7 separate regions of the Homo sapiens genome follow, and all the other regions are linked to region 4. Evidence: fine-mapped expression QTL. A gene starts in region 4. Each other region holds a variant in brackets. All regions are shown on one strand. Distances are between the middles of the regions.

Region 1 (4,063 bases), 65 kb before region 4:
GGCTGTTTGCAGTCACAACCAGAAGCAAGTGTTTCCTGCCCCAGCCGGTGCGTTTGCTTGTTCCCACGGCCTGGGAGTGCTGGCGGTAGCTTTCCTCCTGGCGGGGCCTGAGTTGTGACACACGTCTGGCAGGCCCGGGCCTTTCTCTGCGGCATCAGAGGGCGTCGCTGTGGACCGGCAGATTCGTTTTCAGTCCTGGGTTGAGCACATCTCGCACCTGGAGTCCTTGTGAGCACCTGTAAGGGGCCTTCGTGCGGCCATGAAGGAAAACGTGTCGACCTGCAGAGGTCACCGTGGGGACCCGCAGAGTGACCACACAGCAGCAGCTGGTAGAAAGGACTTTATTCAGAAATTGGTGCCAGGACGGGAGGGAGCCATGCGGACAGTCGCGCTGAAGCCTGAGCCCAGTGCTGCCCCGGGGTCAGTCCTGACCGCTGGAATGTTGATTTGCACTGAGCACTGTCTGTTAGATACAAAATCTGAAAATGCGGGCGTGGGTCAGCAAAACATAATCCATATAAAAGCCTAAAAAAAAGTGAACTGCATTTCGTGGCCAGGACGCCGACTTCCTCTCATGTTACATCGAAGCGGGGCCCGGATGTCTCCGGTGAATTTATGTGGGAAAACACATCTTGACATTAAAAATGCAGCGATTTGTCACAGGTCACAGTTTTCCTAGAAATGCCACTAGCTGGCTGCTCTAAAGAATGACTAATTCTAAAACTCAAAAGCACAACCCTGGGTCTTGTGATTGGCACCGTGAGAGCCCCACGGAGCTGGGGCCGTGCCCGGGGCTCTGGTCACCCAGCTGCAGAGGCCAATGTGGAGCTGACTGCGCGGGACTCCCATGGCCCTGGCCAAGGGGCTCCACACCAGCTGCCTGGGGTCCAAGAACCTGAGCAAGGGCAAGGGGCCGTGGAGGCAGCGCACTTCCTGTCTCTGGCGAAGCGTGAGTGTGTGGCGAGCTGTGGAGGCAGGGCTGCGGGCGCACATGCATGGCTGCTGGAGGCGGTGGGCAGTGGCGGTCCCTGGGGCATGAGATGGGTGGGGGCACTCTCAGGGACCCCCGCCACAGAGCCTCTGTCTTGGAGCTGCTCTGAGTGTCCTTTCCAGGAAGCAGGGCCTTTGCCCGGGCATGACCACCTCACCAAGGGCTGTTCTAAGCTGGGGGGCCCTGGGCCCTGGGGGAGCAGGCCCAGCCCAAGGTGCCTGCTCCAGCAGCAGGCCTTGGGCACCTGGGGGTCTGGGCTGGGGAGGAGGGGCACTGGGCAGGGAAGGGGAGAGCGGTTCTGGGTCTGGGTTGTGGGGGGTGAACCCAGGCAGGGTCTCGGACCGGAGGTCTCGGAGTCCCTGGGAGCTGCAGTTGGCCACTCAGAGGTCAGCTTTGGCCCTTCGTTGCTCAGCCAACCCAGGCTGGCTCAGAAACCTGCTCAGGGAGGAGCTACTCTGAAGTTTGTTGAGTTGGCGGTGGAGGCTGTTGCTGTTTTGTGGGGGAGTCACTGAGAGCTGGGTAAGAGCCACTTATCTGTGTGTGAGAGGCGCAGACAGGCACAAAACTCCTGGGAAGCTGTCTTTCATTTTCATTTTTAAATTTAACTTTTTAATTCTAGCAGAAACACGCAAACCTCCAAGACTCTTGTGCCCGTCCTGGCTCCGTCTGCTGGGAGGAGACCAGCTCTGCCTGTCCCCATGGGGTCCCCTGAGCCTCCACCTCCTGGTCCAGCTCCCCAGGGTTCGGGGGCGGAGGGGCCTTGATAACGGCCGGGCCTGAGACGCGGCTCCCACCTCCCAGCCCGCCCCCCACAGTCGGATTCGGATCTGGAATTCCACACCAGGCCCGAGCTCGGCTACTGGAATGTAGCCTTCATCCTCCGTAGCTTGTCCTGAATCTTCCGTGAGTGCTTCTCGCTGGAGACCTGGTGGAAGTTGGCCCTGCTATCTGCGGCGAGTGTGGAAATGTCGGCACCGCTGAAGCGGGCAATCCTCTGCTTGAGGTACGACTGGAGCTTGGGGTCGGGGCTGAAGGTGTAAGGGTTCTCCTGGAACGCGTGCACCTGGCTCACCACCTTTGCGATGTTCCTTCCGTTGAGGAAAGAAGAGACGTTAGTTTGCACAGGGCAGGGGCGCGGCTTCCGTGGGGAGGGAGTCCCCCCGCGTTCTTAGGAATCATTTGGACTAAATCTTTTCACCGTGTAAATTCTGAAGGGTGGGTTGTCTGTATTTATTGGCGAGGTGGAAAGGTCACTACTCAGACCTTTCCGTCTGTCTGACTGTCCATCCATCCACATTTCAGTCCACACACGCTTATGGAAACCCTGCAGGCTCAGGCTC[G/C]TCCCTGCTGAGCGTCCCAAGAAGAGTCAAGCCCAGTCTGCCGCAGGGGCTGCAGCTGAGAGGACGAGGCAGGCAAGGGACTCTCTGCTGCCGTGCAGAGCGTTCACATTCACACCTGGGAATCGCCACGGCCGGGGCCCAGGGCCGGAAGCCTGGGACAGCTGGTTGACAGTGACCAGCACACCATAGAATATAATGGAGAAAGCTGGCCAGTCACGAGCAGGAGCCCTCAGCCAGGCCTGGGGACACTGATGCCACAGACAGACGCCCTGTCCTGATTTTGGATGGAAACACCACATGCCCAGTGTGAGGGACAAAGAAAGGGGCGTCCATTACGGCAAAGAAAGGCCAAGCCTGGATGGGCTCTCACACACACACACGCCGGGAAGAGCATGCCTGGATGGGCTCTCTCACACACACACACACACGCCGGGAAGAGCATGCCTGGATGGGCTCACACACACACACACACGCCGGGAAGAGCATGCCTGGATGGGCTCACACACACGCCGGGAAGAGCATGCCTGGATGGGCTCACACACACACATGCCGGGAAGAGCATGCCTGGATGGGCTCTCACACACACACACACGCCGGGAAGAGCATGCCTGGATGGGCTCTCACACACACACACACGCCGGGAAGAGCATGCCTGGATGGGCTCTCACACACACACACACACGCCGGGAAGAGCATGCCTGGATGGGCTCTCACACACACACATGCCGGGAAGAGCATGCCTGGATGGGCTCTCACACACACACAGACACACGCCGGGAAGAGCATGCCTGGATGGGCTCTCACACACACACACACGCCGGGAAGAGCATGCCTGGATGGGCTCTCACACACACGCACACACACGCCGGGAAGAGCATGCCTGGATGGGCTCTCACACACATGCACACACACGCCGGGAAGAGCATGCCTGGATGGGCTCTCACACACACACATGCCGGGAAGAGCATGCCTGGATGGGCTCTCACACACACACATGCCGGGAAGAGCATGCCTGGATGGGCTCTCACAGACACACACACGCCGAGAAGAGCATGCCTGGATGGGCTCTCACACACACACACACACGCCGGGAACAGCATGCCTGGATGGGCTCTCACACACACACACACACACATGCCGAGAAGAGCATGCCTGGATGGGCTCTCACACACACACACACCGGGAAGAGCATGCCTGGATGGGCTCTCACACACACACACGCCGGGAAGAGCATGCCTGGATGGGCTCTCACACACACACACGCCGGGAAGAGCATGCCTGGATGGGCTCTCACACACACACACGCCGGGAAGAGCATGCCTGGATGGGCTCTCACACACACACACGCCGGGAAGAGCATGCCTGGATGGGCTCTCACACACACACACACGCCGGGAAGAGCATGCCTGGATGGGCTCTCACACACACACACACTGGGAAGAGCATGCCTGGATGGGCTCTCACACACACACACGCCGGGAAGAGCATGCCTGGATGGGCTCTCACACACACACACACTGGGAAGAGCATGGCTGGATGGGCTCTCACACACACACACACACGCCGGGAAGAGCATGCCTGGATGGGCTCTCACACACACACACACTGGGAAGAGCATGCCTGGATGGGCTCTCACGCACACGCACACACGCCGGGAAGAGCATGCCTGGATGGGCTCTCATGCACACACACGCCGGGAAGAGCATGCCTGGATGGGCTCTCACACACACAC
Region 2 (4,063 bases), 36 kb before region 4:
CCCTGGCACAGCCACAAGCCCGGTGTCGCTGTTCACCGGCAGGAAGCCTGGGGAGCCAGGGGGCTGAGGGTGTGGGCGGGCGGAGTGGCCCCAGCACGTGCCGCACCACCGGCTCATCCCACCCAGTGCTCATCCCACCCAGTGCGTGGTGCCGCGTCCCCTCCCGCATGGCCCTGGGGGCTTCCTCTGTGCTGGGCCCTGGAATGGGAGGGTGGGTGAGACTGGTGCTTGGGGGAGGGCCAGCAGGCGGGGACGGGCCAGCAAGACCAGGCCCCACCAGAAGCCTTGGAGGGGCCTGCTGAGCAGGGCTCAGTACGGGGGTGGGGTGGGCTCTGTGTGGACTCTGGGGGTCTCCAGATGTGGGCTTGGGAGGGCCAGCTGCTGGGAGATGGGAGTGAGAACCTGGAGCTGGGGCCTGAGCGACTGGGAGTTTTGGGAGATGGGGGCTGGCAGGGGCAGGCAGGCTGGGCTGCATGGGCCACGTTGGCCGAGCTCTGGACTTGCTTCCCGGGTTTCCGAGAGGTGCCCGGCTGTGTCTGTCCATGCAGAGGTGGGGGCAGCTGTGGTGTCAGGTGCAGGAGCTGGTGGGGCAGCAGGGGCTGGTCAGGTCCCCACCTGGGCTGGGCTCTGGGGCTGGTGCCACACTGGGCTTCAGTTCAACCACTGAGAAGGCGTTTTGGAGGCTGATGGTCTCTTCCTCCTGGTACACCTGGGGAGGAGGTGACAGCCCTGGGCCAGGTGACCACGGAGCTCCGCCAGCGCCGGCAACACCCACAGGGCGTCCCCCACCACCCGCCGGTGCCGTGGAGCTTCCTGCTGGGGAGGAGCCGGGCATGGCGGCCACACGGCCCAAGCTCTGCAGCGGCTCTGCCTGGAGAGGGAGCCGTTGGGGCTCCTTTGCCTCCCAAGCCAACCAGGTTTCCGTGGGTTCCAGGGAGTGGGAGACGCCAGCACCACCCGAGACTCAGGGCCCACACTCCCAAAGCTCTCTGCGCCCGGGGTGGGTGCTGGGCCGCCGTCCTTGGGACCCTGCCCTGATCCTGATCTGGGTCCCTGGGGGCCACTGTGGGGCCTTTAGATGGGACTCGAGTGTCCCCCTGCACCCCCAGATGCACCCACCCACAGCTCGGTGGTCAACAGAGACCGGGGTGTGGGGCTGCCGGGAGCGGCCAGGCAAGGGCAAGTGCGTCCAGGAGGGAGGAAGCTAAGCGCGGCGGAGGAGGCGGCGGCCTGGCTGTTCTAGCCCACCTGGCAGATGGAAGCTCTGAGGTGGGCAAGGATTTTCCGGCTGTCCATGCCTCGCTGGAGGAGGTAGCTGCCGCACACCTGGAGGGAGGAGACAGTTCACACGTCCCGACAGGCCTCAGCCACGGCTGCACCGTCCCCGTGTCACTGGGTCCCCATCTGAAAAAGCTCAGGGCTGCCAGGAGGGTTTCCTGTTTGTTCTCACCGACACCCAACTACAGGCCCCGGACAAGCCTTTCTTAGAGCATTTCCTGAAAAGGGCTCACAGTCGGCCACTGTCCCCCAGGCTCCCTGGGAGGGCAGAATCCCAAACCCAGCGTTGGCCACAGACCTGGTAGCCTCGTCGCCTGGACACTGGCAGCCCTTGGTCACGTTCGCCTGAGCCCCACGCTCCCTGCCCCCGGCCACTCCTGTCCTCCCTTTATAAGCTCAGGCCTTGTGCAC[A/G]TGGGAACTGAGCTCAGCTTCCCCAGCTCTCAGTAGTTACTGAATAAAATCTGCTTTCACTGCTTGGCAGACGCCCAGCCGTGTCTAGATCTCATCCTCCTGCAGCAGAGGAGGCCTGAGAGGCCCACAGGGTCTGAGCAACCCGCCCAAGACCACAGAGCAGTCGAGGCGGAGACGGCTGGACCCAGGTCCCCAACCCCATGGCCGTCTCCGCTCCCCCAGACACGGCTCCTCCCCAGGAGGTCCTCCTGATCACCCACACCCAGCTCGGCTCCTCCCCAGGAGGTCCTCCTGATCACTGACACATGAGAGTTTGGCTCCTGCCCCACCTGCTGGTCCACCCGCTGGTCCCCATGCCGGGTGCGGGTGCAGGTCCCAGCAGGAGTACGTTAGAACCCAGCCCCAAAGCTTGAGTCCAGCAGGGAGACCAGGCAGGGAGGGGCGGGGCTGGTGGGATCCTCAGAGGAGGTGGGGGTTCGGGGTGGGGGGTGAGGTGTGGAGGCCTCTCTCTGCTCCCCTCCAGCAGGGCCTAAGAGCAGGGGTCTGCACGTGCCCACAGGACACCCCTTGCCCCCGCCCTGGCCTCTTGGACAAGCTGGAGAGAGCGGGCTCCGCAGGAGGAACGGCCATGGTGGGGAGCAGCAGAGACCCCCATGCTGTCCACCCACATGGACGTGGCCATGACGCGAAACCCACTCCCTTCCCCATGCGACGGCCAGGCCGACGTCTAGAAACAGGGACCTAGAAACAGACCTGGTGGCCTCATCACCTGGACACTGGCAGCCCGTGCTCCTCCACCCCCAGCTCAGCGAGGGCGGCCACTGCCCACAGTCCTTGGACCCTGGGCTGGGGCCATGACTGTGGTGTGGTTACCTTGATGGCCTCAGCCGCGGACGGCCGCTCCGGGGCACTGCGCCTGGCCATGTCCAGGAGGAGGGTCTTGAGCCTGCGTGGCAGGGCCAGCTTGTGGTTGCGGGGGACGCTGAACTTGGCTGCGGTCCACAGAACGGCGGCCACACAGTACACAGAGGCCTGGGCGGGTGGGGAGAGAATAGTGTCTACCGCAGGGCTGTGGGCTGCTGTGCCCAGCAGACCTGCCCACCTCAGGCACCCTGAGGGGCACCCAGGCACTGCCCCCACAGAGGGGCTCTCCTCAAGACCCCTCCTCAGCATCTATCAGGCCCCACCCTGGACCCCTGCATCCGCCTCCAGGTCGTGGTCCAGGAACCTGCAGGTCGAACTCTCCCCCATGGTTCTGTCCGCGTTTTAAACACCAGAGGGTTGGAAGCCTCAACTGGACTTTCCCACCTTCCACTCTCCTCACGAAGGCAGCAGCTCGAGGGTTTGAGGAGAACTGGCCAGCATAGCCCCCACCTCACGGACCCGGGAGCCCCCCGACTGGTGCCTGCTCCCGGAAGCCCCCCGACTGGTGCCGTGCTGCTACATGGCTAACAACTGGCTCTCCGAGCGAACACACCGCCTGTGTGCAAACTGAGTTCATCCGGCACGTTGCTGATGTAAGGGATGCACAGCACACCATTTGATGCACGTTTTGTAAGTTCCACAGAGCCAGTCAATTCTCACTGAAGGCTTTCATTGATAAAAATCAATGAAACCCATGTTCATCCACAGTCCACCACAATACACGAGTGCTGCTGACATGAGTGTTGGTTGATGTTTTCATTCATTTCAGTAAATGAGATGGAAGTGAAGCCGGACAGACCCATGCTGGAATTCGGGGCACCCCTCTGAGCGACGTCTTTGCTGAATCAGATGGTCGCGGTTGATATCGTAAGACCATGTCCTCCACCTTTTGGGCTATTCTCAAGGGAGCGGCCACAGACATGACACACTTTTAAGTTTAATCACATCATCCACGTGTTCTCCATCACTTCAGTAAGTCCAGAGAGTCAACAGAACAAGACATTTGTAGCGTTTGCTGCTTTCCCTGGTGTAAGTACTCCCACGTGGCTGACTTCTGGCTACCAATGCAGTGCCCTTGAGTGTGGAGCTGGGAAGAGGCAGCTCCCCTTTACAGAGTCTCCCCCATCCAGGCACAGCAGACGCAGACAGCCCCACGAGCATAGAACAGCCAACTAGAGTCAGATAAGTAGGAAATCACCCATTTTGAGCACTTGTTACACTTTTAAAAAATTAACCTTTTATTTTGTGATAATTGTACATAGTTTTAATAAATAATAGAGCTCATGTACTTTGTACCCAGTTTCCACAACAGTAGCAGCTTGCAAAATACTGATACTGATATAGTCCAGTATCTCAGCCAGCACATCGCCATTGGCACAAAAATCCTGGTTCGCCATATGTTGCATTTTCATTTTCACTCAGTTCTATATGTTTTTAAAATTTCCTTGAA
Region 3 (4,063 bases), 360 kb before region 4:
CATAAAACATCTCAGAAGTGCTCTAGGAGGATAATCAGTAGCCATAAACCCTTGGACCACAGAGCTACGAGGCAGAAGAATATTACTCTTCTGGGCACCCAAAAGGCTCTGGATAAGAAGGGAGGAGAGTACGGATGGGGCTGAAAACATGCTCAGAATGGCTGATTTGAGGGCTTTCCCCTGGAAACTTCCTCTTGTTTTGTATTGTCAAAAGGTTGAGAACCTTAAAACAGACATTTGTGTGGGCAACTATCTGATGTTCGATGCCATACTTCACTGGAAATAACGACCTTGACAAAAGCCAAACATCTGTTCCAAGTAAAACAAAAGCAGAGAACACACAACCTCGCCGCGTCCAAAGGGCAAGCCACGCTGGTGCAGGAACGAAGCCTCCCGCCTCAGAGGGCGCGGGGCTCTGTGCTGTGTCCTGTCTCCTGTCAGCCGGCTCTGCCCGCACGCTGAGCTGCGGTTATGGCTCCGGGAGCAAACAACCCGGAAGTGGCAGCGCGGCTGGGCGGAGGGCGCCCTCCTGGTTCCGCTGGGGCTGCGGCTCCCTGAGGCCCCGAGGGGACCCCGCTCACCCGGGCCCCGCCCACCAGAGGGCGCCAGAGAGAAGCCACCGGGGAGGCGCCTGCGCTGTTTCCCTGAGCCTCCTGGTACCCCGTTTGAGACACAGGAAAAAACGCGTGAAAGGCTTCTGTAAATTATCAAGTGTGGTGACGTATGAACCCCAGGCAGCCCACTCCCAACCCCAAACAACATCTCATTCAAGCTGCGTCTACCAGAAGCTCGCACATCCAACTGCCTCCCTCCAGAGGTAGCCGCTGTCCCGAATTTTGCTTTGAATGTTCCCTGTGATTTTCTTTTTTATACTGTGTAATTGGATTTTTAAAGGGATTTCATAACATTTATATTCCCGGAGGCTTGAATTTTTTTGCTCATCGTTTTTCGTTACCACGTAGTGAGGTGTTGCTGCAGTTCCTCGACTTTGTGACTCCACAGATACGAATATGTGGCACTTTGTTTAACCACTGTCCTGTCCGATTATTCCCAAGGTTTTGCTACTGCAGACTAGGAACATTTTTGAACATGATTCCTGGAGCACTGTGTAAGAATATCTCTAGGCCAAGTGTATACCTGGGCAACCTAATATACATGGAACCAGATTGTTTTCCAAGTATTTGAACCATTTACCTGCGTCCAGTGGTGTCTAAGTGTTCCTGTTATTCCCAACAGTATGTACTAATAAATTTCTTAATATTTTCCGATTTAGTCAATATAAAATGATATTTAACTGTGGTCCCATTTTGCATTTCCCTGATTATAAAGTAGAGAAACTTTCTCTCCCTATCTCTGTCTTGTCAAAATTATACATACTTTTCTCTGAAATGCCTACTCAAGTATTTTATGTATTTTGCTCTCCTCTTCCCTTGGGGTTTTGGTCTCTCATTGTTTGCAGGAATGCTTTATTCTGATCCGTCCTCAGTTCTATGTGTTGCAATAATTTTTTCCATTCTTTAGGTTACTTTTCTATACTATTTATGGCATTCTTTTTATCAACAGATGTTCTCAAGTTATCAGTCTTGCATTTTTGGATTAGCACTTTCTGAGCTTAAAAAAATCCCTTCTTCCAGCCTGGGTGTTGGAGTGAGACCATGTCTCAAAAAGAAAAATCCTTTCCTAGCCAGAAAGATGATAAAGATAACTGCTTATTTATAAGGTTTTACTGTTCCCATTTATGCCCTAAATCTATGTAGAATTTATTTTTGTACATAGTAAGGACTAAGGAAGTTTGTTTTCCCATATAGATATGAATTGTCCCAGGATCCTGTCTCTGATCCCCAAATCATCTTCCAAAACAAGACAAAGTTCTTACACAGGGAATGCATCAGAGGCCTGTCTCTCCCTGGTCCAATGCCATAGCATTTTAATTATTATAGCTTTATAGTAGTATTGATATCAAATAGTGCAAGTCCTGTGGTGATTCACTCAGGATGGTGGCAGAAATATTAAAGGGACATATTAGGGAAAGTTATAGGGAATAGTCACAAACCTTTTTGGAAGGCTGAAAGGTTACATAGCTTGTAATAATTGAACAGGCTGAAGGCAGCGGGTTCTTACCTTAGAGCATTAGGTCATAGGGTAAATACTAGGGACAATAGAGGCTTCCCCAGTTAAGTCTGTTTACCCTACCTCCATTAACTAACCTTTGAGCCAGATGGCCCTCTTGGTGCGGAGGAGGTTGACCAGGGAAATTGCCCCCTAATGGTATTTAAACCGTGGTACCTGAGCTTTAATCATTCATAGAACTACCGTCTTAACCATGTTAATTATCCACAAGTGTGTTGACTCAGAGCTTCTGTTGTTAAGCGTATACTAAATAAATGCCTGAAGTGCAAGCTGCTCAGAGCCAGCCACAGTGACAAACCTCTCTTGGTGTGTAGGCTGTCGGACACCGAGCTGGACTGGCAAAGCAGAATA[T/C]CTCTGTGTCAGTGTACGTTGTATTCATCCATCGTTTGGGTCAGGGTCTGCAGGCACACCCCTGCAGCTAATGCCCTCTTGTGAGGAGCAATACCTCGAGTCCCACCACCGTTTTTTATTTCAAGAGTGCCTTGCATACAAATTTTAAGACTCAGTTAGTTAAATTTCCTCAAAAAGTCTTTTGAGATTTTGATTAGAATCACATAAACTCTGTGAATTAAATATCTTTAAAATACTGATTTTTCCTATCCATGATGTGGAATCTGTTTCCATTTATTTAGGCCATTTTAAAATGTTTTCAATAAATTTTATAATTTTCCGCATGTAAATTGTACACATTTTTGTTAACCTTACTCTTAGTTAACGTTGAGTTTTCTAAGCAGAGTTCTTGATAAATTATGTTTTCCAACTATTTATTGCTAGTGTATAGCAATACAAATGATTTTTGCTTATTGATCCTAGAGGCAGCCCCCTTCCTAAACTCTCTTATTTCCAATAATTTCTGTGCAGATTCTTTTGTGGTTTCTCAGTAGACCATCCTGTCGTCTGTGACCAATGAGAGTTTTGCTTTATATCTTTCAATCCTTATTCCTGTAATTTCTTTTTCTTGTCTTATTGCACAAACAGATCCTCAGTACACTGTTGCCTTGATTTTTATTTTAATGGGAAACATCTCAGAAGTTCTCTAAGAGGACGCTCAGTAGCCATTGCCCCTTTATGAATGATGTTTATTGTAAGGTTTTGATAGGTATACTTTTTGAGTTTAAGGAAATTACCTTTTATTTCTAGTCTACTAAGAATTTTTAAGTTAATAATAGATGTTGAATTGTATTAAATGCTTCTTTTGAAATGTTCAGATGATTTTCCCCTTTAATTTGTGAAAGTGGTGAATAAATGTATGGAATAAACACAGTTTGGTCCTGACAGTTTGTCTTTTTAATGTATTGACGGATTTGCACCCAGAGGAAGGGCTGGCTGGCAGCTGCATTTGGTTTACTCACAGGTTGTTTTGGATTTTTGCATCTATGTTCAGTATGAGGCTGGCCCATAGTTTTCTCTTCTGTCTTTCTCTGTGTTGAATATCAAAATTATCCAGGCTCCAAAGAATGATTTGATGACCATTCATTCATATTTGATCCTTTTGAAGAGTTTATGTAAGATTGAAATGATCTAACAGCTTTAGAAGAACTCACTTTTGAAACCATATGGTATTTTTACTTGTGAAAACATTTAGAATTAATAATTCAATGTATTTAAGAGTAGCATAACTGGTCAGGCTCTACACTTCTTGAATTGATTACGAAAACTACATTTTTTCTAGGAATTGTGATTTCTTGTAAGCTGTCAAATTTATTCACATAAATTTGTTTTAGTATTGTCTTATGTTTACAGTCATGGTTGTATTTATCATTATGTTCCTTTGACATCCCAAACATTGTTTATTTGTGCTTTTTTGTGCTTAAGTAGTCTCAGAAGCAGTTTCTCTACTTTATTAATCTTTTTCAAATAGCAAGCCTTGGTTGTGTTCCTCTCTATTTCCTCATTATTTTGTATTTCATGATTTCTGCCCTTCTTTGGGTCC
Region 4 (4,063 bases):
TTCCCACTGCACGCTGCAAACTCGGTGGGATGACAGTTCACCTGGAGGCCTTGGTGGACGTCACAGGATGGAGCCACCCACCCCAGTACTGTGCCGGCCGGGAGCTGTCCGGCCGGCCCGAGGACACTGGTGTGTGCGTGGGGGTGGGGAGCGGGAGTGGGGAGTGTGCAGAAAGACAGCCTGTGGCTCCAAGTGGGCTCGCGCCTGGCGCGGCGTGTTGTGTGCGTGGCACCGGCTGCTGCCTCCGTGTGCGGAGCGGGGAGGCCCTCAAGGCTCAGGCCTCTGATGCACGAAGGAGCTGTGGGAAGAGCTGCGTCCTCAGGGCCGCCTCCTAACAGATACCCTGGGATGTGTCCTGGGGCGTTTCTGAAGGCTGCGGGCTGCCCCTCCCTCTCGGTCAGAGCCGAGGTGATCTTGGAAGCTTTATTGCCTCCCCTGGCTGCTCCTCTCTGCAGCCTTCAACTGCACCGAATCCAGGCCATGGTGGGGGCGGGGGCATCGCCAACCCCCGCACAGCCTCAGCTGTTTCTAGGTGGCTGGGCCGAGGGCCTCCTGGGGCTGAACCTTCCCAGAAGGACGGTGCTTCCACAGCAGAAACTCCCGGTCCCTTCAGAGCCCACTCCCCTGGGGCAGCAGGTGGGGACTGCGAGGGGGTCAGGCCCGCGGCTGCTGCAGCCGGGATTCCCTGCTCCAGGCTTACTTGGCCGGCTTTAAAGAGAGGGCGCCACAACATCCCACTAATGGCTGCAGGTGACGACGCTGTCACCCGGAGACGCAGGCGCCCAGCGTCTGGGCTCTTGCCTGTTGGAGGTTTGGCAGATCTCGGATCCCTGGAGGGTGAGGGTCCCTCTGGGAGCTGCTGTATCCCCTGGGGGCCACCTCTCATGCTTCCGGGCCTGGCTTGTCCACTCCATCCCAGCCAAGCCAGAGCTGAGCTACAGGGTCAGACCCAGCCAAGGTGGCGTCTGGGCAGCCGGTGCTGTAGGGTGGGCGGTCCATGAGCAGAAGCGCCAGGGTATGCAGATGGCAGGCAGAGCCCCTCTGCACCTTGCGGGGTAGGGGGGTCTTGGGTGAAGGCCCGGAAAACCAGAGAGCAGGAAGCAGCTCTCAGTCTCGGGGGGCAGTCATCCAGCGCTCCCCCCACCCCCCGCTCCTGAACCTCAGCTCCGGGGACCTCATCCCCCAGCTCCTGAGCGGCGCCTGATTGGACTCTGCTGCTCTGCACCCCGCTGGCCTCCTGGGGCCCGGCAGGGAGTAAGCAGACCCCCCTCCGTCCTCCTTGCTGCCCCCACACTGTCCCGCCAGGGTTTCCACCAGGAGCTACCGCGCACCAACTTCTGCAGGGGCTGCCCACCCGCCGCCGTCCCGTGCGCATTCGGGGGTGCTGTCCCCTCCGGGTGAAAATCCTAACGCGGGGGCTGAGAACGGCGGTGGGAACCCCTCGGCCATGGAGGGCGCCTGGGGAGGCGGGAGCTCACAGCCCCTCCCGGGTCCTCCCCCCGGGCGCTCTCCGCGGACCCCTCGGCGGCGGAAGGGGCCCCCCAGTGGGGCCGGGGGCTCACCTCGTCCTCGGGGAGGGTGGGCAGCGGCTCGAAGTCGTAGAAGTCCAGGTCTTTGCCGTCCTCCTCGTAAAGATCCGCCGCGGCCGGGTCCATGGCCTGCATCCTGCGGCCGCGCCGCGCACCGCCCCCGGGGCCTCCGGCTGGGCTGGGCTGGGCTCGGCTACGCGCGCCCTGGCTCCATGGAGACGCGCCCGGCCCTCGCCCGCCCCCGCCCGCCCGCCGCTGCCGCAGTGTCTCCAGGGGACGCGGTCAGGGATACGGGGCGGGCCCGGGGGGCGCGGGGGGCGCGGGGTGCGCGGGGGCTGCGCGGCGCTGTCCGGACCCGGCGCCTAGGGAACGTCGCTCCTTCCTGGGGGAGGCACCGGGGGCGGAGCCAGGCGTGTGGCCTCCGCGGGGAGCCACGGGGTCTGCGCCCCACCTGGGCCCCAAGGGTCGAGGGGCGGAGCCGGCGCCCAGGAAAGCTCGGACGGGCAGACCCCCTCGCCGGCTCCCGCCGCCCCCGTCCCACCCCCGCTGCTGCCGGGCGGGGCTGCCGCAGTCCCGGGGTGGCCTCTGCAGCGGCGTTGGGCAGGGCCGGGCGGGGCCCGGGGTGGGGGGCGGGGCCCGGGGTGGGGGGCGGGGCGGTCGCTGGGCCGGGGTCTCTCCTGAGCGAGGGTCTTTCGGAGGCCCGGGGATGTTGGGGGTGGGGCAATAACGCTGCCTCATCCCCACCTGGAGGCATCGGAGAGACCCACTGGGCACCCGACCCTCCCCGGTCCTGGGGGACCCTGGGGGGTCCTGGGGCTCTTGACCTCTTCCTGCCCCAAAGGCCCCCCGGGGCTTTCTTCAGCGCCAGGGTGACCCCGGCCCACGGTAGTGCCGCGGTCAGAAGAGCCAGGATAGCCCCAAGCTCGGCCAAGAGGCAGGGAGGGTGGAGGAGAATCTCACCTTCCCCGGCCACCCCCAGAACTCCCACAGGAGAGAGGGCGGCTTCAGGGCCCGGCTGTCAGCTCCCCGTCCGTGTGGCTGGCCAGGCACACAGTAGGTACTTAATCCATGCTCCTGGCTTGAAGGAGCAGCAGGGCTTTTGACCGCAGAGTGGGAGGGTGCAGTGTGTTCAGGGACGTGAATTCCCAGCACTCTGTCCCCTGGTCGGTCACCCGGGCTGTCACTCTGGCCTGGCAGGGAGTTCAGGGGCTCAGCTCCCCGGGAGCCAGGTGGGCACTGAAGCCGGAGGCTGGGAGTGGGGCAGGTGCTGGGCAGACTCCCTGCGTCCAGCCAGGCAGCCCCACCTTATTGAAAATGCCCACCCTGGGGCCCACCCTGGTCCACCGAGTCAGCAGTCAGGTGCAGCCTCCCCCATCCTTGGGTGTTTGGAAGCTTGGGCAGCAAGCCAAGGTGGAGTGGGCTGGAGCTGGAGAGGAGGAGTCTCACAGAGGGTGGCCTCAGCCAGCTGTCCCTGAGCTCTCTCTCTGTGGGCCCCACAGGGCCTGCAGCGCCCCAGTCCCTGTCTTGGAAGGAGGCGGAAGTGGCAGGCAGACTCTGCTCCAGGAGCCTGATCCCGCTGCACCCTGGTGCTCAGACCTGGACATTGGAGCTGAGCCCCTGGGCTCCTGGGCCCTCTGCTGCAGGGCTGGGGCCGCCTCCTTTGTCAGGTCTGGATGTGCCCCTGACGCCTCTCAGCTGCCACCCAGACTTGTGCCTCCGGGGGAACGCCGGGCTGACGTGACCCCAAAGGGAAGGCACCAGGGACCCCACAAGCACAGGACTTTGTCACCGAGTGCCCAGGTCACCTCACGGGCTTGGGGTGAGGATATAGACACTGAATAGGGGGCAAAGGTAACCCCATAATTTGGGGGGCAGCCATAGGGCAAGCACTCCTGGAAAGACGTGCATGCGGTTGGTAAAATGCAGAACTCACAGGCTCCTGGAGTCGGCCGTGTCAGCTTCGGCTGTTGCGGCCTAAAACCCCTCAGCAGGCATTTCCCACACCTGGGTCACTCAGCGCTGCTGCTGCTCAGGGCTGGGCACGTGGGGAGGGGCCTCGGGCAGGGGCCGCAGGCTCTTTCTTTTACGCACCTGCTGCTTTCCTTTAAAGATTTGTGGGCTTTGGTCTCTGTTGTTCTGGGGAGTGGTGGGAACTTCCAGACGTTTTGCGAGTTGTCCCGGGCGCCCGCACACTCGCCTGCAGTGATAAAGCTTTGACCCAAGTGGAGGGTGCGATGTCGGTCCTGTGTCCTGGCACCTCAGTTATGCTGGACGAGGGCGCAGTTCCTCCAGGGTCTGGATTCATCGCCCCACGTCTTCTAGAGCTGGTGAGCAGCTTCTGGGTGCCACGCGGAAACGGCCAAGAGCCCTCCGTGAGCCACAAGGAACGGCCTCCTCATCAAGCCCTCCTGCCTCTCGGTGCCAGCCCTGTGTGCCCAGCATGTGCTGGCACAGCTTCCTCCCGAGGATGCTTGTGGTGGTGTCGGAATTCTGAGGGGCTTCCCAGCTGCACGATCAGGTCCGTGGTCCAGGGC
Region 5 (4,063 bases), 94 kb before region 4:
AGGTCTTTGTCTCCTTCTGTGCTGAACTCCACCCTCCAACAGCTCCCCGTGGCTGCCCAAGCAGGGGTGGCGGGGTGTCAAGGAGGGTGGGCGGCGGGACCGCGGGGCAGAGGGGCTGTGCATCCTGGGTAATCCCACCCTCGCCCTGGGTGGCCACCAAGCGGTGCCGGCAGCTGGACCTGGGTGCGGAGTGTGGAGCCGAGTTCACCTGCCTTTTTGTGGCTCCCAGAGGAACACGCAGAGACCCAACTGAGGCCAGCCTAACTGGGGCTGCTGAGGGTCAGCCCCGGCATCGGCTCGGGGCACCAAGGACCCAAGGAGACTGAGCAGGGACTGCAGCCGCTCAGCGGGGGTTGGAGGTGGCAGAGCCCTCCTCAGCCTGGGGGAGCTCAGCCCTGTCCTCAGTGAGAAAGACCCCCAGCCCCTGGCAGCGGACGGCAGTGACCACACAAGGGCTTGAGACCTGGGACTGGGACCTGGGCCGAGTGTGGGGTCCAGACCCAGGTGGTGGAGAAAGGGGTAGGCTCTGCAAGTGTGTGTGTGTGCATGTAGTGTGCTTTGTATGAGTGTGGGGTGTGTGTGTGTAGTACTAAACACATCATGTGACGTGTATATGTGTGTGGTGTGTGTCTACATGTGGTGTGGTGTGTGGGGTATGTATATATGTGGTGTGTACATGTGTGGTGTGTACAGGTGGGATGTGTATATATATGTGGTGTGCACATGTGTGGTGTGTGGGGTGTGTATTTGTGGTGTGTATGTGTGTGGTGTGTAGGTGTGTGGTGTGTGGGGTGTGTATATATATGTGTAGTGTGTACATGTGTGGTGTGTGTGTTGGGTGGCACGTGTGCACATGAGACACGGGGTCCAGCCCGGTGGCCCCAGCTCCTGGCCAGGCAATCCCAGGGGACAAAGGCTCCTGGACAAAATGGCTTTGGCCCCTTCCGCCCGCCGTGGCCTTGGAGGGCAGAGGAAAGTTCTCATGGCCCAGCGAGTGCTCCTGATATGTGGGTGTGCACAGGAGAAGAGAAAGAAAATATCAAGAAGCCGTGATTATCTCCTCTGAGGGAGTCACAGACACGCAGCCTTGAAACGCCAGCCCTGAGCTTAGGGCAGGGCTCTCCCAGGGCCGGGGATTAACTCTTTGCTTCCCTCTCCCTCCGGGGCTGGGGGCTGCCTATGGTGGCTCAGCTGAGCCCCTGGCCCACCAGCCCCTTGAGACCATCCCAGACCCTGCCAGGAGCCAGGCGGTGATCAGCCTCTGGGCACAGGCCCAGCCCTCCATCTCCCCTACAGCCGGCCTGGAGCACAGATTCCAGGGCCTGGCTCCCAAGGGGACATCCCATGGGGTCCCAGAGCCTCAGGAGCCTCAGGGCCCGGTCACTCAGCTGCACTGCCCTCCACACATGATCTGGGGCAGCCCCAGCACGCCTCAGGTCCTCAGTCTGACCTGGATCCCGGGAGCCCCCTGAAGACAGACGAACCGACCTGGGTCCTGGTCACTGCTCCAAGCTCATGCCCTCTCCATAAACTCGGTGTGGGGCCACCAGACGTAGCAAGTAAAAATTCAGGACACACAATTAATTCAAATTTCAGTGAAACAATGAAAACTTACAGTGTGAATGCATCCTAAATATTTCATGGGACATATTTATCCTAAGAAATGGTCCGTGTTCTTCCGAGACGCACATCTGACCCTGGGCCCCGTGTTATTCTGACCAGGGCATCCCAGGGTCAGCCGACCACCGCAGAGCGGGCACCCCCACGGCTCCGCCGCACAGCCCCAAGTTTTATTTCTATTTTATTTATTTTTTGCGGAATAAACAGTCTCAAGTGCACAAGCCCAGGGCTCTGGCAAATGCGTCCAGTGCGTAACTACCTCATCCTCAGGCCACGGAACATTCTACCGGGGGGGCCCTGTCACCCCACGTGGTTTGGCCTGCTCTGGGGAGGCCCGAGACCCTGTGTGTCTGCTTCTTTCTTGTACAGTCATCATGATTTTTTATCCATTTCTGTGTGGATGAAGGAGACTTGGGGACTTGGAGTGGTTCCTGTTTGAAGACCTTCTCCTTCTCCTTCTCCTTCTCTTCTTCTTCTTTT[T/C]TTTTTTATATGGAGTTTCACTCTTGTTACCCAGACTGGAGTGCAATGGCGCAATCCCGGCTCACCGCAACCTCTGTCTCCCGGTTTCAAGCGATTCTCCTGCCCCAGCCTCCCGAGTAGCTGGGATTACAGGTGCCCACTACCACGCCTGGCTAATTTTGTATTTTTAGTAGAGACGGGGTTTCTCCATGTTGGTCAGGCTGTCAGGCTGGTCTCGAACTCCCGACCTCAGGTGATCTGCCTGCCTCAGACTCCCAAAGTGCTGGGATTACAGGCGTGAGCCACCATGCCCAGCCTTCTTTTTTTTTTTTTGAGACAGGGCCTCGCTCTGTCACCCAGGCTGGAGTGCCTTGGACCATCACAGCTCACTGCAGCCTCGAACTCCTGGGTCAGATGATCCTCCCGCCTCAGAGTCTCGCATAGTTGGGACCACAGGTGCATCCACCACACACAACTAGTTTATTTTTTAATTTTTTGTAGAGACAAGGTCTCACCATGTTTCCCAGGCTGGTCTCAAACTCCTGGGCTCAATCAATCCTCCTGCCTCAGGCTCCCAAAGTGTTGGGATTACAGGCGTGAGCCACCCACCGCACCCGTCCCAGAATGTTCTTATTGAAGTCTTTCTGGGGACGGATGATTTCATTCCTCTTTGTAAATGCTTAGGAGTGGAATTGCCAGGTCACACGGTGGACACAGGTTTCATTTGTAAGACTCTGTCCATCTCCGAGGGAACTCTATTTCCAGCACCTCCTTTGACAGGTGGGGAAACTGAGTCCAGGAGCGGTCAGCTTTGCTCTAGGCCTCGGCTGCTTCTCTGGGGTAGCCATTGACATCGCCCGGCCTGCAACTCAGGGGTCGGTGGGACCAGCACATAACCTGAGGGAAGTGCTGACTCCCGGGACACTGGACCTATGGGGTGGGGGCTGCAGGGCAGGGTCAGGAGCAGAGTGGGACAGGGTGCAGGGCAGGACAGGGTGCAGAGAGGGATGGGGTACAGGGCAGGACGGGGTGCAGGGCAGGACGGGGTGCAGGGAGAGCTGGGGTGCAGGGAGGGATAGGGTGCAGGGCGGGCCGGGGTGCAGGGTGGGCTGGGGTGCAGGGTGGGGCGGGGTGCAGGGCGGGCTGGGGTGCAGGGAGGGATGGGGTGCAGGGCGGGCCGGGGTGCAGAGCGGGGCACGGTGGGGTGCAGGGTGGGATAGGGCAAGATGAGGTGTGGGGCAGGACGGGCTGCTGGGCAGGGTTGGGCCCAGCCTCAGGGTGTGGCCAGTGTAGACTGAGGTCTCCACATGCGATGCAGGAGGAGCAGGCCACCCTCTTTGGGAACTTCAGCAGGGAGAGTCCACCAAGGGTTAACAGTGGGCTGCCTTTGGCCAGAGACAGCTGCAGGGACACCCCCGCCACCCGCCTCCACCGGGCCCCACAAGGAATGGAATGGAGGGAGTGGAGCCGCCTGAAGGCCACCCGTTATCACCGCCAGCTCCGTGCCAAGCACGTCTGCCAGACCCACAGAGATCCTTTCTGTTTCTGGTGGAGGGAGGGAGGGTGGCCGGTGTGTTTGGTGTGGAGGGGCTGCTATTGGGGTCTGAGGCACCCAGGGAGTGTCTGGACCCACAGCAGGGCCCCTGCCCAGGTGGTCATCCTGACCCCTGCTGATGGGGGAAGGACCAGGACACAGTCCCCGGCTGGTGCTGGCTGGACTGCTGAGGCCTTCTCGGGGTTGGCGGTGCAGCAGGAGGCCCCGGGATGGTGGGAAGGATGCCCGGGTGGGGCTCCTCTGCTTTCAGGCCCTTCCACCCCTACTCTGCAAATCTCCGGCAGGAGGTCCCCAGGATGGGTGGGAGCCAGGCTGTGCGGCCTCCAGTGGGTGAGGTGGGTCCCTGTCCTCCTGCTCACAGGCTGGGTTTCATTCAAAGCACTGGGGAGCCACAGGGAGCTCGGGACGGGGGCAGGTGTGTGGGGTGTG
Region 6 (4,063 bases), 43 kb before region 4:
TCGGCCCGCAGCCTCCTGTGAGGGGTTCACGTGCCCAGGGCCCGAAGCGACCGCCCCGAGGGGCTCATCCGCGAGCCGGTCCACCAGGCTTCCTTTTGTGAAGTGCGGTTGGCTCAGATCCACACAGCCACCCCCTCGCCTTGTCAGCCGCCAGTGACTCTGCTATTGACAGGGTTTATTTTTGAATGTTTTTTGCAAAATAAAAAAATGCAGGCGACATTTCTATTTAACTACTTGAATCCGCTCTATCTGGTGGTTCCATGGAGACGGGGTCCCTGTGCTGTCTTCTCCCACGCACGGGTTCAGCAGCGGCCGTGGCGGTGCCACGGAGGGCCAGGCTCCCCGCTACGGCAGTGTGGGCAGTGTCCCAGCTGCGTAAAGACCAGGCCTCTGCAGAACCTCGGCCACTAAGCCAGGTTCCCCAAGCCCTCCGGACCCCGCTGCCACCCAGCCAAGTGCGACCCTGCCTCCCACACTGAGCTGCAGGCTGCCGTGGCTGCCTAAAGTGCAGTGAAATTAAAACATCAGGTCCTCAGTCACGTGGGCCATGTTTCCAGAGCTCAGTAGCCACACGTGGCTGTTGGCTACCCGGTGGACAGCGTCTAGAACATTCCATCATCAAGGAAGGACCTACCGGGCTGGGCAGGTTGAGGTTGGTAAACGCAGGTGTCCCCATGGAGCTGTGTTCTGCTGCCGGGGCACCTGGTCCTGGCTTCTGAGGATGGTGGTGGCCACGTTCCCCCATGGCCTGCACCATGGGGCCCTCGTCCGGCCCCCGGAGGTCACCGGCGCCAGGCTCCATCCAGCCCTCTCACCCCCATCCATTTGCAGAGGTGCTGATGTCGAGAAAATCTCCTGGGAAAGGTCTGTGTACCCTGACGCATCCAGGAACCTGGAGGCGGGTGCCTGCGAGCCCGATGCCCGCCTGGCTGGAGTGCAGCTCACGCAGACTCCTCTCTGGCCGGCACCTCCACGGCCTCCGTTCACAGTCAGACTCGATGTCCGTCGGGGGCGCTCCTCACGCGGGAACCACAGGCGGACTCCATGAGGAGGACGGTCTTGACTGATTTTAATAAATCCACGGTAACTAAAATCCACACCACATGTGGGGCAGTGAGGAGGGAAACACGAGGCCAGGCTTCACCGGTGCAGACAGACGGGGGAGGAACCCACACCAGTGCTGTCCACGCTGACTCTGGGAGCCACGCTTGTTTTAACAGCAGGAGACGCGGATGCCAGCTCCACAGCCCCAGGGCACCCGCAGTGCTGAGCCCAGCACACACGGCCGGCACCAGTAGGTGGGGGTCAGCGCTGAAGGGAGGAAATGCCCACCGGCTGCTCCAGCCGCCCCAGAGAACGGCCCTCGCTGCACCGTGTGCGTTTTGGGCTGCGGATGTGAAAGTCTGTCTCCAGGTGGTTTTTGCCCTTGCTGTGTTTCTGAGCCTCCTGTTTTGAAAGAGACACAGTAGCTCCTCCAAGAGAAACGTGAGGCTGTGGCCATGGGCCGGACGCTGTGTGTTTGGGGGCCGAGTGCTCCCTGCTGGACACCATGAGTTTGGGGGCCGAGTGCTCCCCGCTGGACGCCGTGAGTTTGGGGGCCGAGTGCTCCCCGCTGGACTCTGTGCGTTTGGGGGCCGAGTGCTCCCCACTGGACGCCGTGCGTTTGGGGGCCGAGTGCTCCCCGCTGGACTCTGTGCGTTTGGGGGCCGAGTGCTCCCCGCTGGACGCCGTGCGTTTGGGGGCCGAGTGCTCCCCGCTGGACGCCGTGCGTTTGGGGGTGGAGTGCTCCCCGCTGGACTCTGCCAGTTTGGGGGCCGAGTGCTCCCCGCTGGACGCCATGCGTTTGGGGGCGGAGTGCTCCCGGCTGGACGCCGTGAGTTTGGGGGCTGAGTGCTCCCTGCTGGACTCCCTGCGTTTGGGGGCCGGGTCGTTTGGTGTTTGCTGTGCCGGCCGCCCTTTTCTCTCCCCAGCCCC[G/A]GGGGCGGCCTTTGCGTCCTCGAAGCCCCCTCAGGCCCTGTGTGGGGTGTCCGAGATGCAGGTGCAGAGGCTGTAGCACCATGCGGGTCTTTCACGTGGCCCAGAAGCTGAAATGAAGTGAAGGCTTCACAGAGCTTAACCCCTGTCCCCTCACCTGCCCTGAAGGGACACCGGGTCATGTTCTGGACTGAGTCATAAAGTGCAGGCCAGGAGGCGGCAGGAGAGGAGCAAGGAGGAGCCCCAGGAAGGGCTCCGATGCCCAGAGGCTGGGGGAGGCTTCCCACGGTGGCTCAGCTCGAGGCAGACGGTGGTAGGAGAGGTTCCCGGAGCTGATGGCCACTGGGCCCCTCCTGTCATCCACCCTGGAGTCCCGGGGCTCTCGAGAATGCAGCCCAGGTCGGGGCTGTGGGTCACTGGTCCCACCTTGCGTCCAGAGCTCTGCAGGCCTCTCCTGCACCCAGGACTCCCCGGTCTAAGACCTCCTCTCCCTGCTGGCCAGGGAGGAGTTGCAGCTGCTCCTGACCCAGGATGGCACTGCTGGCCAGAAAGCCCGGACCAGGCTGCAGCGACCAGGCCCAGTCTAGACTTGCTGGGCAGGCGTTTTTGGTGTTTTCTTTCACTGCAGAGCGAGGCTGCCCAAGGGCCCGGAGGCTGTGCCTGCCCCACGGAAAACACGACCGAACGCAACCTGGTCACGAGCATGGAGGGGCCTCCTGTGAACCCATCGCCCGGGCGACCATGAGAGAAAAGCCCTTCCCTGTCCTCAGACGTGGAGCCACCAGGAGCACCAGTGCAGACGAGCCTGTCCCTAGACGTGGAGCTCAGCCCAGGGAGGGGGCCCTGACCATCTTGACAGCCACGGGGTGGGGGCACCAGGACCAGTGTCACCCTGTTGGGGGCTCTGGGCACACGGTGCCATCTGTCACCTGCAGTGACCAGGAAGCTCTGCTGGAAGGAGACGCCCTGCCCCACCCGGCAGTGCCAAGGCCTGGGACTCACCGGGCTCTGGGCGTCGGGCAGGGCCCCGTCCGCCTGCTGCCGCCCCAGGTCCTTCACGTAGTTGTGGACGTCGGCCCCGAAGCAGTCGGCCTCGTAGAAGGCGCTGCACCAGCCGGGGCTGCAGCTCTGGAATCCGGCTGGGCCGGGGGACAAGGCTGGGCCGACCCCTTTGGACCTGGCCAGTCGGGTCACTGCCTCCACGTCTGAGGCCCCGCCAGCTGGCCGTCTGTCCTCGCCAGCCTCAGGCTGCTGCGCTCTCTCGGCTTTTACGGACCTCTGAGGCCGAAACCCCACCTCGAAGTTTCCCCGTGACAGTGCGTCCGAGTCCACATCCGACACCGAGGTGGGTGAGCAGGGGGCCCTGCTGCTGGTCCTGGCCATGGCTGGCTTCTCTTTTCCTTGAAAGAAAGAGACGCAGGTTACGTGGACAGTGGCTCCTGTGGGCGGAGCCCGGGCAGGCTGTTAATGGGAGGCCGGTGGTGCTTGCACACCCGACGCCCTTCTCTCTTGCACCCGCCCACCACGGGCGCCCCCCGGGCACGGCTGCCGCCTCCCAGTGCAGGGGAGATGCTGGGACCCTGAACTGCCGCACGGGGCCGGGTGACAGAGAGAGGCCTCTCCCCAGATGGAGCCCCACTCTGCGCCCTCACTGCTTCCAAACTCGTACTCGCCCCGGGGTGGGGCCGGGCCCTGTCCTCGCTGGCTCTGCTATCAGGACTGTGTCCCTCTGCCCCCTCACGCTCTCCTCTTTTCTTCTGGAATTTAAAAAGTGGTCCCCAGCTCTGTCCCTGCGGGAGCTTCCCCTGTGCAGGGCTTTCCTGCCATCCAGGAGTGCACGGGCCTCATGCCCCAGCCTGCCCGCCTGGTCTCCGACTTGATAGGAACTGGGCCCGTCACCAAGCCTGGCCACGACTACGGACAGCCTGAGGGTGACCACCACCCCCACCTTGTCCCTAACACCAAGCCTGCTGGCTGGACGCTGGGACGTCCCCAGCCTGGCACTCATGTGCCCTGGGATCCTGGGGCTAACAAGCCCACTTCTGCCTTGTCACCAAAGCCCCGGCTCACAGGCCCCCCTCTGCTTGGAGAG
Region 7 (4,063 bases), 26 kb after region 4:
GCCCCCACAGGGACCCAGAGACCAGAACCCCCCCACAGGGACCCAGAGACCAGCTGCCCCCACAGGTACCCAGAGACCAGACCCCCCCACAGGGACCCAGAGACCCCCCCCACCACAGGGACCCAGAGACCAGACCCCCCCACAGGGACCCAGAGACCAGAAACCCCCACAGGGACCCAGAGACCAGCTGCCCCCACAGGGACCCAGAGACCAGAACCCCCCCACAGGGACCCAGAGACCAGACCCACCACAGGGACCCAGAGACCAGCCGCCCCCACAGGGACCCAGAGACCAGACCCCCCAACAGGGACCCAGAGACCCCCCCCACCACAGGGACCCAGAGACCAGCCGCCCCCACAGGGACCCAGAGACCAGACCCCCCAACAGGGACCCAGAGACCCCCCCCCCACCACAGGGACCCAGAGACCAGAACCCCCCCACAGGGACCCAGAGACCAGACCCGCCTACAGGGACCCAGCGACCAGAACCCCTACAGGGACCCAGAGACCAGACCCCCCAACAGGGACCCAGAGACCCCCCCCACCACAGGGACCCAGAGACCAGACACCCCCACAGGGACCCAGAGACCAGCCGCCCCCACAGGGACCCAGAGACCCCCCCCCACCACAGGGACCCAGAGACCAGACCCCCCCCACAGGGACCCAGAGACCAGACCCCCCCAACAGGGACCTGGAGACCAGCTCCCCTATGGTACCAGCCCAGGCTGTCTCACACCCAGGGACCCAGTGGCCCCGAATGAAGTCTGCCGTGTTTTAACAAGCATCATTGAACCATGTTTCCTTTAACACTGCTCACCTGCAGGCCATCGGCCCCACCCCACCGAGGCACTGAAGCCACAGGTGCTGCAGTGGATTCTTTACCCTGGCAGCTCAGCCCACGCCAGCGTCCCGCACTCCCTTGGAGGCAGAGACCCCGGAACTCATTTTAAACAGTGTTTACCAGGAGACACAGACCACAGATACACAGCCCACGTGACACAGGACCTAGTACTCAATTGAGACGACTCAGACCACGAGAACTCAGCCTCCCAAACACACAGAAGAACACACGGGCGCAGCTCCAGCCCACCACATGCAAACGCACCACCACCGCCGCCACCTGGGCACACGGAGGGTGAAATTTCAGCCCATACCAGTGGCACCAAGAAAGTAGCCCAGAAAATGTGTCCTCATCCTACAGCAGCACAGACTGCTACTGTCACCTCGAGTATTTTACCCAGCAACACAGCTCACTATGAATCCAATACGAGCATTAACCCTAACAGGGAGGCACTACGTGCCAGAGTTCCTCACTCCACGAAGACGTGGGCCACGAGTACTCTCCGAACCAGGGCAGAGACATGGGTACTAACCCAGGCTATCCCTCACCAGGGTACTCACTCCACTAGGACCTAGACCAAGGGTACTTTCTGGACCATGACAGAGACATGAGTACTAAACCAGCCAATCCCACACCAGGGGTATTCACCCCTCTAGGACCTGGACTTGGAGTAATCTCTGAGCCAGGGCGCAGACATGGGTACTCACCTGCTTTGTCCCTGGCCGATGTCAGCCCTGCACCACTCTGTGGCTTGTTCAGTGACCCTGTCTGGGAGAGGCTGGGGGGCGGCTGGCAGGGAGGGACTTGAGCTCTGGGTGCCTCTGCTGCCGGTTCTGACCTGCAGGCCTCCCTGAAGGGCTATGTTGGGTGTGGTTGGAGTTGTGAGTAGGGAGCAAGGTGTCTGTTGCGATTACAGGGGAAGTTGTTGATATTTATGTAGAAAAGAAGTAATTAGAGTGAGTTTAAGAGTGTCCTCTTAACAGTGGTTTTCCCAGTACCCACGTCCTGGGATGGGAGTGGGAAGGAAAGGCAGGCCCTGGCAACCCCAGTCATTTCCTGGGACACAGGACAGAGGTGTGAGGTCCAAGTCGGCGCCCACTTGGGCCTGAGCGGTGCTGCTTGTCCTCTGGAAGTCGGCCGCCTGCAGATCTGTGGCCGGGGGGATGCAGCCTGGGGTCTGGGGTCCTGAGTCCTTGCAGGACCGTCTGTGGGCAGCCACGTCTGTGCTCAGGCACTGGCCCTGCAGCCCCCAGGAGGCCTGGACAGCCAGTGTTGGGAGTTGCCCTGGTGGGCCCCAGCTCACCCAGCAGCCCTCCCTCCAGGCCCAGAGGAGCCAGCACGGCGGGCATGAAGGGCTTGTCTTGCTGCTGAGCCCACTTGCAGCCTGACCTGTCTCACTGGGAGACACTGATCTTCTAGCTGTGGCCCGAGGGACAGGCCTCTCACGTGTGCCAGGCCCTCCTATGCCCCTCCTGCTCCGCCTGCCCTGAACAACCACAGCACTCAGATGCCTGCTCAGACTTGGCCCCAGGGACCCTCC[G/A]AATTGGCTTCTCTGTCCCTGTGCCCAGTAGCCTCCCCAGATGCCCACCAGGCCCCGCCTCCACCCCACCGTTGACCTGGCCTCACAGCACTTTGTCTGTCCTCACGGGGTGCTCACCCTTTCCCTCCCCCTACCCCGTCCCCTGCCTCCCTGGGCACACGCTGCCCCTGCAGACACAGGGCCGGCCTCCATCTGCCCAAGGTACCCCCACCCCACCCACCTCAAAGGCTACAGAACAGTCCTTGGTCTTGAATACAACAGGCAGAATTTCTGGCCGAAGGTGCCTGTGCAGTAAAGGCTCTGCAGAAGCCTCTAGGCTCAGGTACAAACCCTGGCAGTGCAGTGGAAGGGAAGCGTGATGAAGTGAGACACAGAGGAGCAGGATCCACGTGAGACACGGAGGAGCAGGGTCCACGTGAGACACGGAGGAGCAGGGTCCACGTGAGACACGGAGGAGCAGGGTCCACGTGAGACGTGGAGGAGCAGGGTCCACAGTCCCCGCACAGTGAACACACCCACTGTTCCAGCTCAGGCCAATGCTGGTCCCGACAGCGTCCCCCGAGAAATGCAAGCACCAAGGGTCAGGGAGCAAGTGGCAGGACCGGTCAGGCACCATCTGGGCACTGGGTAGGTGTGGAAGTGCCCGTTGCAGCCAGTCTCTGCACATGGGGGGCATTCACCACATCAGTGCAGGGCCCTGAGCTCCTTCCAGGGTCCCTAGACAGGCTTCCTGCAGCTGCTGTCACTGATGGGCGACACTGCAGCCTAGCGTGTGGCTGCTGAGCTGCCTTCTGCCAAGGCCCTCCCAGGGGCCCAGTGCTCCCATTCAGCCTGCATCCCTCCTCAGTCCTGCTCAGGCAGGTGGAACGTGCGGGCCCCAACCCAGCCCCTTCCCCGCAGAACCAGTGGGGGCTCCTCAGCTGCCCAAAGCCCCTGCAGGGGTGGCTCATTCAGAGACAGAGCAGGCCGACCAGATCTGAGCCCTGTCTGGGGCCTTCGTGGGCGACGCGGCAGATGCCACTGTGTGTCTCCCAGGACTGGAGGCCTCCTCAGCTAGGACTGCTCCAGAGAAGAACTGTCAGGGTCTGGAGGCACAGGCAGCTTCTGCTTCCTAGTCCTTTAAGCTGACTAAAGTCACCACAGTGTTGCCGTGTGGTAGTTACACACCCGCACGGAGACAGGGCGGAGGGGCCGCCTCACAGTGTTCCTCCAAAGAGCATGCACACACATGCACACTTACCCTCAAGCACACGTGCATGTGTGCACACAACTCCCACAGAGGGACCTACACACCACACAGGCGCACACTCTCACACACTAACACGTCAACACCCACACAACCCACAAGCCACTCACAAACACACAGGCACACAGGCAAGCACACTCACACAGGCCAGCATACACGCACACTCCATCGCATCCGACACGCAGGCACACGGACTCACACACACACAGGCACACAGGCACACTCGCACAGGCCAGCATGCACGCACACTCCATTGCATCCGACACACAGGCACACGGGCAAGCACGCTCACACAGGCCGGCATGCACGCACGCTCCATTGCATCCGACACGCAGGCACACGGGCACACTCGCACAGGCCGGCATACACCCACGCTCCAGTGCGTCTGACACGCAGGCACACGGGCAAGCACACTCACACAGGCCGGCATGCACCCA

The links.
Region 1: its variant is fine-mapped to the expression of KNDC1 in whole blood (TOPMed, PIP above 0.99).
Region 2: its variant is fine-mapped to the expression of KNDC1 in monocytes (TOPMed, PIP above 0.99).
Region 3: its variant is fine-mapped to the expression of KNDC1 in whole blood (INTERVAL, PIP above 0.99).
Region 5: its variant is fine-mapped to the expression of KNDC1 in whole blood (TOPMed, PIP 0.93).
Region 6: its variant is fine-mapped to the expression of KNDC1 in whole blood (TOPMed, PIP above 0.99).
Region 7: its variant is fine-mapped to the expression of KNDC1 in whole blood (TOPMed, PIP above 0.99). The same link has a PIP of 0.9 or more in blood mononuclear cells.

The regions. Positions count from the first base shown.
Region 1 is chr10:133,222,675-133,226,737 of GRCh38, reverse strand. It overlaps KNDC1 (kinase non-catalytic C-lobe domain containing 1), which reads right to left. Exons shown (of 30, transcript NM_152643.8): 30 at 326-2,079. The coding sequence ends at 1,848. Among named protein-coding and RNA genes, the nearest start is that of UTF1, 5.5 kb to the left of the region's middle. RefSeq lists an enhancer at 1,020-1,643. The variant G/C (reference allele first, on the strand shown) is at 2,332.
Region 2 is chr10:133,194,321-133,198,383 of GRCh38, reverse strand. It overlaps KNDC1 (kinase non-catalytic C-lobe domain containing 1), which reads right to left. Exons shown (of 30, transcript NM_152643.8): 10 at 2,563-2,721; 11 at 1,249-1,326; 12 at 616-709; 13 at 1-47. It overlaps LOC105378574 (a long non-coding RNA gene), which reads left to right and starts at 2,048. Exons shown (of 2, transcript XR_946511.3): 1 at 2,048-3,243; 2 at 3,383-3,897. LOC105378573 (a long non-coding RNA gene) reads left to right here. Exons shown (of 5, transcript XR_007062351.1): 5 at 1,110-1,188. The variant A/G (reference allele first, on the strand shown) is at 1,690.
Region 3 is chr10:133,516,843-133,520,905 of GRCh38, reverse strand. LOC105378575 (a long non-coding RNA gene) reads left to right here. Exons shown (of 5, transcript XR_946512.3): 2 at 1-1,235. Among named protein-coding and RNA genes, the nearest start is that of CYP2E1, 8.5 kb to the left of the region's middle. RefSeq lists a silencer at 504-703. The variant T/C (reference allele first, on the strand shown) is at 2,482.
Region 4 is chr10:133,158,069-133,162,131 of GRCh38, reverse strand. It overlaps KNDC1 (kinase non-catalytic C-lobe domain containing 1), which reads right to left and starts at 1,913. Exons shown (of 30, transcript NM_152643.8): 1 at 1,563-1,913. The coding sequence starts at 1,664. RefSeq lists enhancers at 362-952, 953-1,542.
Region 5 is chr10:133,251,589-133,255,651 of GRCh38, reverse strand. No RefSeq gene overlaps it. Among named protein-coding and RNA genes, the nearest start is that of MIR202HG, 5.7 kb to the right of the region's middle. The variant T/C (reference allele first, on the strand shown) is at 2,101.
Region 6 is chr10:133,200,809-133,204,871 of GRCh38, reverse strand. KNDC1 (kinase non-catalytic C-lobe domain containing 1) reads right to left here. Exons shown (of 30, transcript NM_152643.8): 17 at 2,974-3,371. LOC105378573 (a long non-coding RNA gene) reads left to right here. Exons shown (of 5, transcript XR_007062351.1): 4 at 2,600-4,063. Among named protein-coding and RNA genes, the nearest start is that of UTF1, 27 kb to the left of the region's middle. RefSeq lists an enhancer at 3,777-4,063. The variant G/A (reference allele first, on the strand shown) is at 1,975.
Region 7 is chr10:133,132,030-133,136,092 of GRCh38, reverse strand. No RefSeq gene overlaps it. Among named protein-coding and RNA genes, the nearest start is that of KNDC1, 26 kb to the left of the region's middle. The variant G/A (reference allele first, on the strand shown) is at 2,381.